2 separate regions of the Homo sapiens genome follow, and region 2 is linked to region 1. The links come from fine-mapping of genetic effects on gene expression. Tissue or cell type: breast. Region 1 holds a variant in brackets; the other region holds the start of a gene. All regions are shown on one strand. Distances are from middle to middle.

Evidence for each region. PIP is the estimated chance that this variant, and not a neighbour inherited with it, causes the effect. A credible set is the group of variants that fine-mapping cannot tell apart.
Region 2: it holds the start of PKP1, and the variant in region 1 is the best candidate, but not a certain one, in a credible set for the expression of PKP1 in breast (GTEx, PIP 0.55).

Annotation. Positions count from the first base shown.
Region 1 is chr1:201,309,121-201,314,341 of GRCh38, forward strand. PKP1 (plakophilin 1) reads left to right here. Exons shown (of 14, transcript NM_001005337.3): 3 at 4,046-4,440. Among named protein-coding and RNA genes, the nearest start is that of PKP1, 28 kb to the left of the region's middle. The variant C/T (reference allele first, on the strand shown) is at 2,708.
Region 2 is chr1:201,280,278-201,285,498 of GRCh38, forward strand. It overlaps PKP1 (plakophilin 1), which reads left to right and starts at 3,229. Exons shown (of 14, transcript NM_001005337.3): 1 at 3,229-3,627. The coding sequence starts at 3,426. RefSeq lists an enhancer at 3,070-3,599.

The DNA.
Region 1 (5,221 bases):
AGTTCTTTGAGGCCCTGGATCTGGGGCTTGTATTGCTTCACTGAGACTGTCTCCTTGCCTATAAAGGAGGGGTTGGCCTCTGAGAGCTTCCTGACTTAATGAGGGACAGGAATAGAGGGGAGCTTTCAGTGTGGGGTTAAAACACCCCACTTCTCCAAGAAGGAAGGGGAGAAGGGGAATTACACAAGCAGGCGGCAAAGCGGGGACTGGCTGGGGGGCTCCTAGCTAAAAGCAGCTTTTCCTGGCTCACCTCGGGCTGTGGGACCCCTCAAAAGCCCCACTGGTCTCCCAAGTGAAGAAACATGTCTCTCAGAATGCTCTGGATTTCTGTCTGGCTGTCCAGTCTAGCCTGCTGTCTGGCAGAGTGACCAACTCTGCTCTCAGGAAATTGAGTTTCCAGCCTCTGGAATGTTCTGATCCATGGGATAACCAGACAAGAGGTTGTGTGTGTGTCACTGTCCTTTGTATTCAAACAGCCAGACGCTGCCAGCAGATTGCTATCTGAGTGTGGGGGTGTGGCTGGGAGAGCCGGCATTGGCGGTGAAGCTCTCCCACCTGCAGCGGGCGCACGTGCACTGCCCGTGCATCCTCTTCTGGCTGCAGCTGCTCTCTCGGGACCTGGAAGACAGTGTTTGGAAACGTGTGGGGACATTTTGCAATGACTGTGAGGCATTACTAGCATTTAGAACCTGGAGGCTGGGGCACTAAACATCCTGCCATGCTTGGGACAGCCTATACAAAGAATTGTCCTGCCTCAGGTGCCGACAGCACCCAAGTAAAGAAACACTGCACCATTCATCATAAAGCCTGGCTTCACTCGAAGTGCCCCATCTGGGCAGACCATGCTCCTCCACTTTTCTGAGACATATTTAGACCCATTCTATGTCTGTGGGGTGAGACTAGCACGGGGCTCTGATACTGGTGCATACACTTTCCTGGGCTGTCTTGGCTTCCTGGGTTCATCCTCTCTCTTATGACACCTGGTATCCCATTTAGGTATGTCACAGGTGACATAAAATCTCTCCTTTAGGAGCCAAGTCCTAAGGCAGCCAGCCTGTGCCCAATCTAAGAGTCAGAGGGATATGATGTCCCTACCGAGCAAACACTCATATCGTGGACTGTCCTGAGTGCTTTACTAACATTAGTTCACTGGATTCTCCCAACAATCCTCTATGTTGGCTACAATTATACTAGTTTTACAGATGGAAAAACTGAGGCACGTTGGGCTTAAGTAATTGCCCAAGGCCACCCATTGGGCAACGACAAGGCCAGGCAGGCTGGCTCCAGAGTCTGTGTTCTTGACCTTGGGTCTTCCTCCAGTTTGTAGATCTCAGCCCAGTGAGCTGGAGGAAGCACCTGGATTCCCAGGCAGTTGCTGCCGTTTCAGCCTTCAAGGCTGCAGGCTTCATCCAGGTCCCAGGCCAATTTGTGCAGGGAGAGCTGGTGGCAGTTCACCTCCTTGTGCCTTGGAGGGAATCCAGGCCCCCTCATGGTACTTGGGGAGGACGGGGTCTGAGAGGAGGCTTTACTCCTGCTTGTCAAAGTGACAGCAAAGGGCCATGATGATGGGAGAGAGTCATACCCAGCTGTCCTCAGGCAGCACAGCCCACCAGCACCATGACACTAGGAGCTGGGGTGGGGTTCCCAGGAATGGGTGACGCCACTAGGGTGTGGCTGATGGTGGTAGGCTGGGAAATGCAGTCCCACGGGGATGTCTCTGCCTTCCCCACCTTGCCCGCTCCCCTGCAGGTGCAGCCAATGCCCATTCCCTGTGGGCAGCCCACCCTTGCTGAGACTTGGCAAGGCTGCCAGCTGCTCCTTTTCCCAGCACAGGAAAGCAAAGCCCAAAGCCTCTGAGAGGCTCAATCAGCATGATCACATGTTTGCTGGTTTTGGGCCAGGATGAGTGTTTGGGCTTCTCATTAGGTGTCTGAGATGACGTCCAGGCGTGTCGTTTATGGAGAACAAGGGTGCTCCTTGTTGCATTTCCATTTAAGGCTTAGCTGGCTCTTTGCCCTTTGGCAATGCTGGGCTTCCCCCTCCATGTTGTCATCTGCCACCTTCCTTCCCCTGAGAGGAGAATGGAGGGTGTGGCCATTTGTAAAGGCTTTCATGGCATATTTTGCCTGTAATCTGCAGGACACGCATTCCATACCCAGATGCTCAGAAAATTGCCCAGCTGCTCTCCCCATGCCTTGTGATTGTCCATCTATGCCTCTCCCAACAACCAGACACCAATTCTCTTTGGAGTAGGTTGGTTGACCCAGTTTGGGGAAGAAAATTATGCCTGCCTGAGTGCACAGCTGGGCGTGTGGGTGAAGGGGATGAGCAGGCTATTGCCAAGGTTAACAGTCTGTGGCTTCTGAGTTTTGGATGCAACTTCTGACTGGTGGTTTGACACCCAGTCTTTCTGGGAGCTCAAACCATGGGAGTTTCCTGCTGTCTGTGACTCCCTGCAGAGATGAAAAAGGACCAAGTCGAGTGCCAGCCCCTCCCCAGCTTGTGTGGCTAGATCTGGTGCAGAAGGGAATTACCCAGTTGCCTAACGACCTCCCCTACACACACATACTCTCTCTCTCTCAGGGAGGGGCAGGGGTGGGCGGGCAGGCCCTAGGTTGCTGGGTTTGGCCCTGGCCCATCCCAGCAAAGGTGAGTCCCAAGTCAGCACCTGTGTGGAGATGTTTTTTTATCATACTCGATGTTGATC[C/T]TCTACTATGAGAACAAGTTGGAGCAGGCCAGACCCACCAGCTTGTGAGCTCCTGGGAAAGTCCTCCTCGGACAGTTCTGTTCCAGAACTGATTCGCACCAAGTCTCCAACCTCACAGGCCCCTCCCAAGGAGGCCGACTCCCCACTTGGGCTCACACAGAGCTCATGAGGCACCTCATTGTCTGTTGTATGTTTTTGTGCCGGATTGAGCCTCTGCCCAGCTTCTCCCCATTGCCAGCCTGACAACAAAGCCCAGGAGGCCCTCCCTGTACCCCACCTTGCAGCCCCAGGCCTGCCTCCATGTGTGCACGCAGGCCCCTAGCTCACAGTCCCTTGTAAAAGGGCCCAGGGAGCAGGAATATTGTCCCTCTTTGGCCTTTGAGGTGACCTGTTACCCTTTGCTTCTTGCCCTGGAAGAGGGGAGGCAAGATGAAGAGTTTAGCAGAAAAGAACAGTAGAAAACAGTCCTGGCCAGAATAGAAGTTTCTGTGTGCTGAGTATAAGGGGCCCAAGAAGGCTGGCTGTGTGAGAAGCTGCTGGTGTCTGGGAATGGCATAGGGCTTGGAGACCCAGACTCAAGTCCAGGTTTTGTCCTTTCCTCACCGAGTGACTACTAGAAGGTCACTCTTCTCTGGGCCTCCAACTCCCCCTCCTGGACTGTACCATGTGGGACCAGATCAGAGGTTGTCAAACTTTTTTGACAGCAATTCACAGTAATAAATGCGAAGGATTGTTCTGCCTCAGGTGCCGACAGCACCCACGTAAAGAAACACTGCACCATTCGTCATAAAGCCTGGCTTCACTCGAAGTGCCCCATCTGGGCAGACCATCCTCCTCCACTTTTCTGAGACATATTTAGACCCGTTCTGTGTCTGTGGGGTGAGACTAGCATGGGGCTCTGATACTGGTGCATACACCTTTCCTGGGCTGTCTTGGCTTCCTGGGTTCATCCTCCCTCTTATGACACCTGGTAGCTCCTTTAGGTATGTCACGTATGTTGCAACCCAGTACCCATACACTGTTTCACAAAACAATGTGTGACTTTACTACCTGCACTGCACTCTGATATTTTATATTCCAGGATATATTATTCTATTCCATCTTTTTAAAAATGATGGCCATAGTCTTCTAAATTGATTTTATAATCCACAATGGGTCACAGCCTGCAGTTAGAAAAGTAATATATCAGATGATGGCTCAGGTTCCTTCCACGCCAAACATTCTGGGATTCTGTAAGCGTTATTATGGGGGCTGGGGAGGGCTGTATCTCATGCCCTGCTGGATCCAGGACCCCCATTTAGGAACCTTGACTGAGCTTTTCTCCCTTTCCCTGGCCAGATCTACAATGGAACCCTCAAGCGGGAGCCTGACAACAGGCGCTTCAGCTCCTACAGCCAGATGGAGAACTGGAGCCGGCACTACCCCCGGGGCAGCTGTAACACCACCGGCGCAGGCAGCGACATCTGCTTCATGCAGAAAATCAAGGCGAGCCGCAGTGAGCCCGACCTCTACTGTGACCCACGGGGCACCCTGCGCAAGGGCACGCTGGGCAGCAAGGGCCAGAAGACCACCCAGAACCGCTACAGCTTTTACAGCACCTGCAGTGGTCAGAAGGCCATAAAGAAGTGCCCTGTGCGCCCGCCCTCTTGTGCCTCCAAGCAGGACCCTGTGTATATCCCGCCCATCTCCTGCAACAAGGACCTGTCCTTTGGCCACTCTAGGGCCAGCTCCAAGTGAGTGCTGCTGGGCTGGGTTGGGGAGCCAGGAGGGCCAGTGGGGAGACACACCCTTAGCCTGACTGCACCCTGCAAAGGGCTCCTGGGATGACAGGAGAGACATAGCTTCTGTCCCTGGGGAGTTCATTGCCCCTGGTGTAATGGACTCCCTAATGGGGAGAACCTGGCCCCATGGGCCCTTGAACTCAAGAAGTTCTTAGTGTGAAGGTGAAACAGACATTGACTGTGTAGGTTTTAAAGGTCACAGTTTATGAACAGAAAGAGGCTAATAGTTCTCAAAGTGTGTTCCTCCAACCAGCAACATCAGCATCACCCAGGAATTTGTTAGAAATGCTCATTTGGGGACCCACCCAGACCTATTGTCTCAGAAACACTGGGAGAGGGGCCCAGCAATGCATATATTAACAAGCCCTTCAGTGATTCTGATTTACACTAGAGTTTGAGAACCTCTGATCTTAGGCATGTAAATCTCTATCCATGTTCTGAAAGAGCAAAGGAATATGCCCCGGTATGGACGACGGGAATAGAATGGGTTTCAGGTTACGTTATAAGACAGGTAAATCCAAAGGACAAATAGGACAAATAGACATAAAAACTGAGGGACATGGCCTGGGTGTGGTGGCTCACGCCTGTAATCCCAGCACTTTGGGAGGCCGAGGCAGGAGCGGGTAGAGGGTGCTTGAGCTCAGGAGTTTGAGACCAGCCTGAACAACATGATGAAACCTTGTCTCTACAGAAAAATACAAAAATTAGCCAAGCATGGTGGCGGGTGCCTGTA
Region 2 (5,221 bases), 29 kb before region 1:
ACTTAATGCTCTAAGGAGGCAGCAAAGAGAATTAGAAGCCCGTTCATACTCATTCCTTTGAGGATGAAAATATACTCATCTTATTTCAGAATCAAGTCAAAATTAACTTCTTTCAGGATGCTTCCCCCTGATCACCCCCAACACCTTCCAAGCCAAAATTAACCCATATCCATTAGAATTTTAACATCTAAATATATGTTCTGACAGTCACCTGAAAGCATGCCATTTCAGAGCCAGGATCATGTGACTGTGCCTCCTTGACATCTTTTCTTCACTTTAGGAGTGTTAGCCTCCTTGCTGGTTGATTTCTGAGACAGGCCCCACATAGGGTGGGGCTCAGGCAGGCAGAAGAGAGAGAGAGATTATGGAAATAGCATTGGCCTGCTGGCTCAAAACCATATACCTGAGCCCCAAACCAATCCTCCCAGCCTGAGTATATCTCCCTCACCGTGGCCCAGAATGTGTAACCTGACTTCTCTTTCCTCTCCTCCTCTGTCAGAAGGGCCTGATTCAAGATGTCCTGCCCTACAAATCCCCACAATCGACAGAATTATAGAATGTTGGGGCTAGAGTGGAGTTTAGGAGCCACGAAGTTTACCCGCTCTCTTTGTAGATTGGTGCAAGGGACGGAGGAAGGCACTTGTCTAACATGAAGCTAGTTAGTGACACAACTAGATCAGGAACCCAGCTGGCCTGACTTTCGTGCCCTGTGATGGGAATGGATGCTGTTAAAATACCTATCCAGAGAAGGATCTGCTTGTCACAGAGAAATCTCGAGGCGGCAGCCTGGCACTGCCACTGAGTGTCCAGCTCTGGATTGCAGTTGCCTTGTCTGCCTGTTGCCAGCTGGGTGGCCTCATGGAACTTCAGTTACCTCATCTGAAAAAGAAGGGTGATGGTGCCCACCTCATAGGGTCATTGTAAGGATTTAAATGATGTGGTTCGTGTACAGGGCTCAGAACAATGCCTGGTTGGTAGGCATGGTGTTTGGAGGAGCATAGTAAATGCTATTGCTATCAATATGTCAAAATAATGTCAATATTAACATAGTAGAGAAGTAGCTAGAAAAACTGAACTTCATACCTGGAAACAATTTTAAAGATAATCAGTTCTGCTTCCACGGACTTGCCTTTTATAGGAAGATGAGCTACTCTAATCCCCTCCTTCAGGGCCCTTCTATATCCTAGAATAGGAAAATTATCGTTATTTAAAGATGTAATTAACATTTATTATGGCTAGCATATTAGGTTTTAGATAGGCCAAATGTGTGATACAATAGAATTGTATTTTTATATGCTGCTGTGTATACTTTACAGTACATTGGGGCCCTTATATAATCGGTGTGCACTGTACTTTAATGTCCATTTTATAGGACTTTTATAAGGGAAGCTGGATGATGTGGTGGAATGAGCACTGTGCCAGGAGTCACAAGGCCTGGTTAGGATGCAGGCTTTGCCACATATTAACTGGGGCATTGCAAGCAAGCTACCTCCTCTCCTAATCAGTGAAATGCAGTGCTTGGCTGGATGAAGTCCAAGGCTCTGTCCAGTCCTGGCGGTCTATGGCTAGAGGCAGAATCTTACAATATGAAGTGATAATAGAGGTTTACAGGTATTTTGTACACATCTATGACATATTTTTTATCACATCTCTGGTTTACTTGAGGTTAAGTTCTTAGGAACAGCGCCCTCAATAATAAAACTGTTTCTATTGGAAACTATAATCTGCTTTACAATAATCTGCTCTGCAAATTGCTACTAGGAATACCTTCCTTGGGAAAGCTGGGGCTCCCCGCATGTAACACCCACATCTCAGGAGTTGCGTGAGTGACCTTCATGTACATGGTCCCTGAGACAGTCATTCAGTCTTCTTGATCCTTCCTCGACATAAAATTCCCAAAAAGAATAGATTTCTGATTGTCCTTTCCTCTGTAGATTAGAAGAGCAAACTAAAAGTAAAATATGTGAGCTGTGAGCGGCAGCCTCAAATGACAGCAAGAGTGACGGCTGTGATAGTGTCACACACTGGTGGAGGCCCCAAAACTAAGAAACTGACCGGACAGCACGACTACACAGTTCAGTAATGGATGTCCAGAATGAGAAACCCAGGGCATCAAGAAGTACAGCAAATATGTTCAGTGTTGTTTGCTTTAGGAGGCAAACAGAATGCGATACCTTTTAGAAAGATTTCCATCAAAGTAAATACTTAAAAAAAAAAAAAAACACTCAGCTCCTGTTACACACCAAATTCACTGATGTGGGCTCCCTCCACGCCTGGAGAGGATGCTACATGAATAAAGCTTCACTGCACATGTGTCCCCAGGGGTGAGTGTATATAGGGGAATGCACACAGTGGTCCCAGAATAATAAGTCCAGAGTGAAATTTCAGGGTAAAGCAGCTTTTCAATTTTTCAGTGAGGATCTGGTTAGGATCCGAGTTAGATTTAATTTACCTTAAATTAACTAGCATTCACGTATTCACCTATTTAAAATATTTTTTATTAAGCGCCTAATATTATGTGTGCCAGGCATTGTTTTAGAGGTTATAGTGGAGTTTCAGAGAGGATCCGCTGTTCACGTGGTGTTTTACCGGGGTATACTCATGAACAACAAATAACCACCGGTTTTACCAAGGCATACCCACTGTGTGGTCTGATATCCCAAGTCTGCTCCTTGATGTGGCCTTACTGCCCCTACCCCACTTTCTTCAGAGGAAGCTCCTTTAGAGTAGACTGGGTTACCCCCATAAGATGGAGCACTCCTTTGGAGCAAGAGCTATGGTTCTGCCATCAGCCCGGGAGCCTCCACCGCCGGGGTTGGTCTCTGCTATGACCTCAGTACAGAGGGAGATGGACGCCTGGCTCTCCTGGGCAGCCTGGTCAAGAAAGACTCCTTTCTTTCCTAGAGAGAGGTCTCCCTCGGTTCCTGAGCTGAGCACATGCTTTCTCAGTGAGCCGGCAGAACAGGACAGAGGGGCGTCTCCCTGGGGCCTCAAGGCTTGCGACGTTTCTTGCTCATGGGGAGAGGGAAGGGAGAGAAAAAAAAGAGCGAGCAGGAAGGCGCCCAGCGTCCCACACAGGGGACTCGCAGCCCTGCCCCCAAGAGCGCTGGCTCCGCAGCAGCAGTGCCCTGCAGCTCCGCGTCTGAGCAGCAGCAGCGCGCGGCCCGGTGGAGTGGGTGGTGCAGGGCAGGGGTGGTATATCCTGTCTGACGGAGGGCGGGCCTCGCCAGTGCCAGAGAGGGACGAACCAGGGTGGAAGCGCCAGGAGCAGCTGCAGGGAGCCCTCACGCGGACCACGCACTCTATGGCCGTAGGGAGCCGCTGAGAGCGAGAAGAGCACGCTCCTGCCCGCCCGCTGCACCGCACCTCGCCTCGCCTCTCTGCTCTCCTAGGCCCCGGCCGCGCGCCACCCGCCTCCCGCCACCATGAACCACTCGCCGCTCAAGACCGCCTTGGCGTACGAATGCTTCCAGGACCAGGACAACTCCACGTTGGCTTTGCCGTCGGACCAAAAGATGAAAACAGGCACGTCTGGCAGGCAGCGCGTGCAGGAGCAGGTGATGATGACCGTCAAGCGGCAGAAGTCCAAGTCTTCCCAGTCGTCCACCCTGAGCCACTCCAATCGAGGTAAAGGCTCGGCCCCCGCGTGGTCCGTGCGCCCCTTTCCAGAGCACCCTGGCCCAGTGGCGGGGACCAAGAGACGCACGCATCCCCGGGGATGAGGGGAGGCGAGGGGCTGCCGGCCCCAGGCAGGGTCTACGCACCTAGTGCGAGCAGCCGAGCTCCCAGCCGGTTCTGAGCTGGTGTAAACGCGACCCGAGGCTGGCTCGACGGCCCCGCGAGCTCGATGGCGCGCTAGTGGGCAAGGATGGGTGATTCACCGGGACACAGCCAGGAGCATGTCCCAGCGTGCCAGGAGGTTGAGGATCCCCCGCGAGCGGTTCTCCTGTCCCTGAGCCCTGGGTCTGGACGGCTTTCTCTTTCGGATGCTGCTCTAGGGATCTGCCCTGCATCCTGTCTGGCCCCGGCTGTCCTGGGGCCCATGGTCCCCGCGCTCGCAAACGGTTGTGGGCCACCCTTCACCCTTCCTGGGCTTGATCTCCTGGCCTTCAGCTGGAGGCCGATGCCCAGCGTCCAGGCCAAGGGGAACCCCAGTCCCTGTGGGGCCGCGCATGAGTATCCGCGAGCGGGGTGAGGGAGTCGCTGAGACAGGAGTGCAGCTCAGGAGAGGCGCTGCGGGACGGGAAAGTGGCACAGGGAGCAGGGACGAGGGCCTGGAACTCCAGGGCACTTTATCGAGAGCCTCCTGAAAGAGGCTAGCCTAGTTGGAAGGCCGCCCCAGGGCCAGTGGGTCCCTTGACGACAGGGAAGGGGGTCAGGGATGCTTTCTTTCCCGAATAGCCAATGCAGAAATCCTCTTTCCCACTGGATTCTTCTTACCCCACCCAGCTTAGGTAGAAACAAGTGTCTCATGGGGAGAGTACGGAATGGCAGGTTGGAAATCCCCCCGGGCCCCAGGGAGACCTCCAGCTGAACCCTCACGGGCACTTTTCCAAGCTGGATCCCGGGCCTGGCACCCCCTCCTCCAGCCTCTGAGAGGCCAGATCCCATGACTGGGGGAACCTGGGAGAAAGGGGCAGCACCCAGGAAACTCAAGGAGGAAGGGGCAGTACCTGACAGGGGAGAGCTTATAGACCAAGTAAACACTTTGATACAAAGGATGCCTGGTAAGAATTACACACAAGTGAGCAAAGATTCCACTTGTTTATTTATTTACTTATTTTATTTAGCTAAGTTTAGTAAAATGCTAATAAGACTTTACCCATTACCAAACAGTACAGGTCAACCAAGACTTATGTATTAAGACAGGCCTTAGGAGAGAGTGAGGGGCAGGGGGTAATAAGGTGGAAGGAGACAAAAGAAACCGACCCTGGCCCTTCCACCACACACACACACACACACACACACACACACACACACACACACACCTCACACTTCCTTCTACCTGTGGCTTCTGTCCCCCCACCTACTCCCTAGCCCCCATTCCTGAGTGGCCCCTTGTAGAGCCGAGGGAAGGAAAATGGCCGGCAGAGGACTTCCTGGGCCCCAGACCTAAAGGCCTTTGCTTCTCTGTGTGCTCTTTGCCTTTGTGTGGGCTCCAGGCTCCTCTCGTCACATTTCCACTCAAGATCATGCCACCTCCAGAGCACTTGCCTCCTTC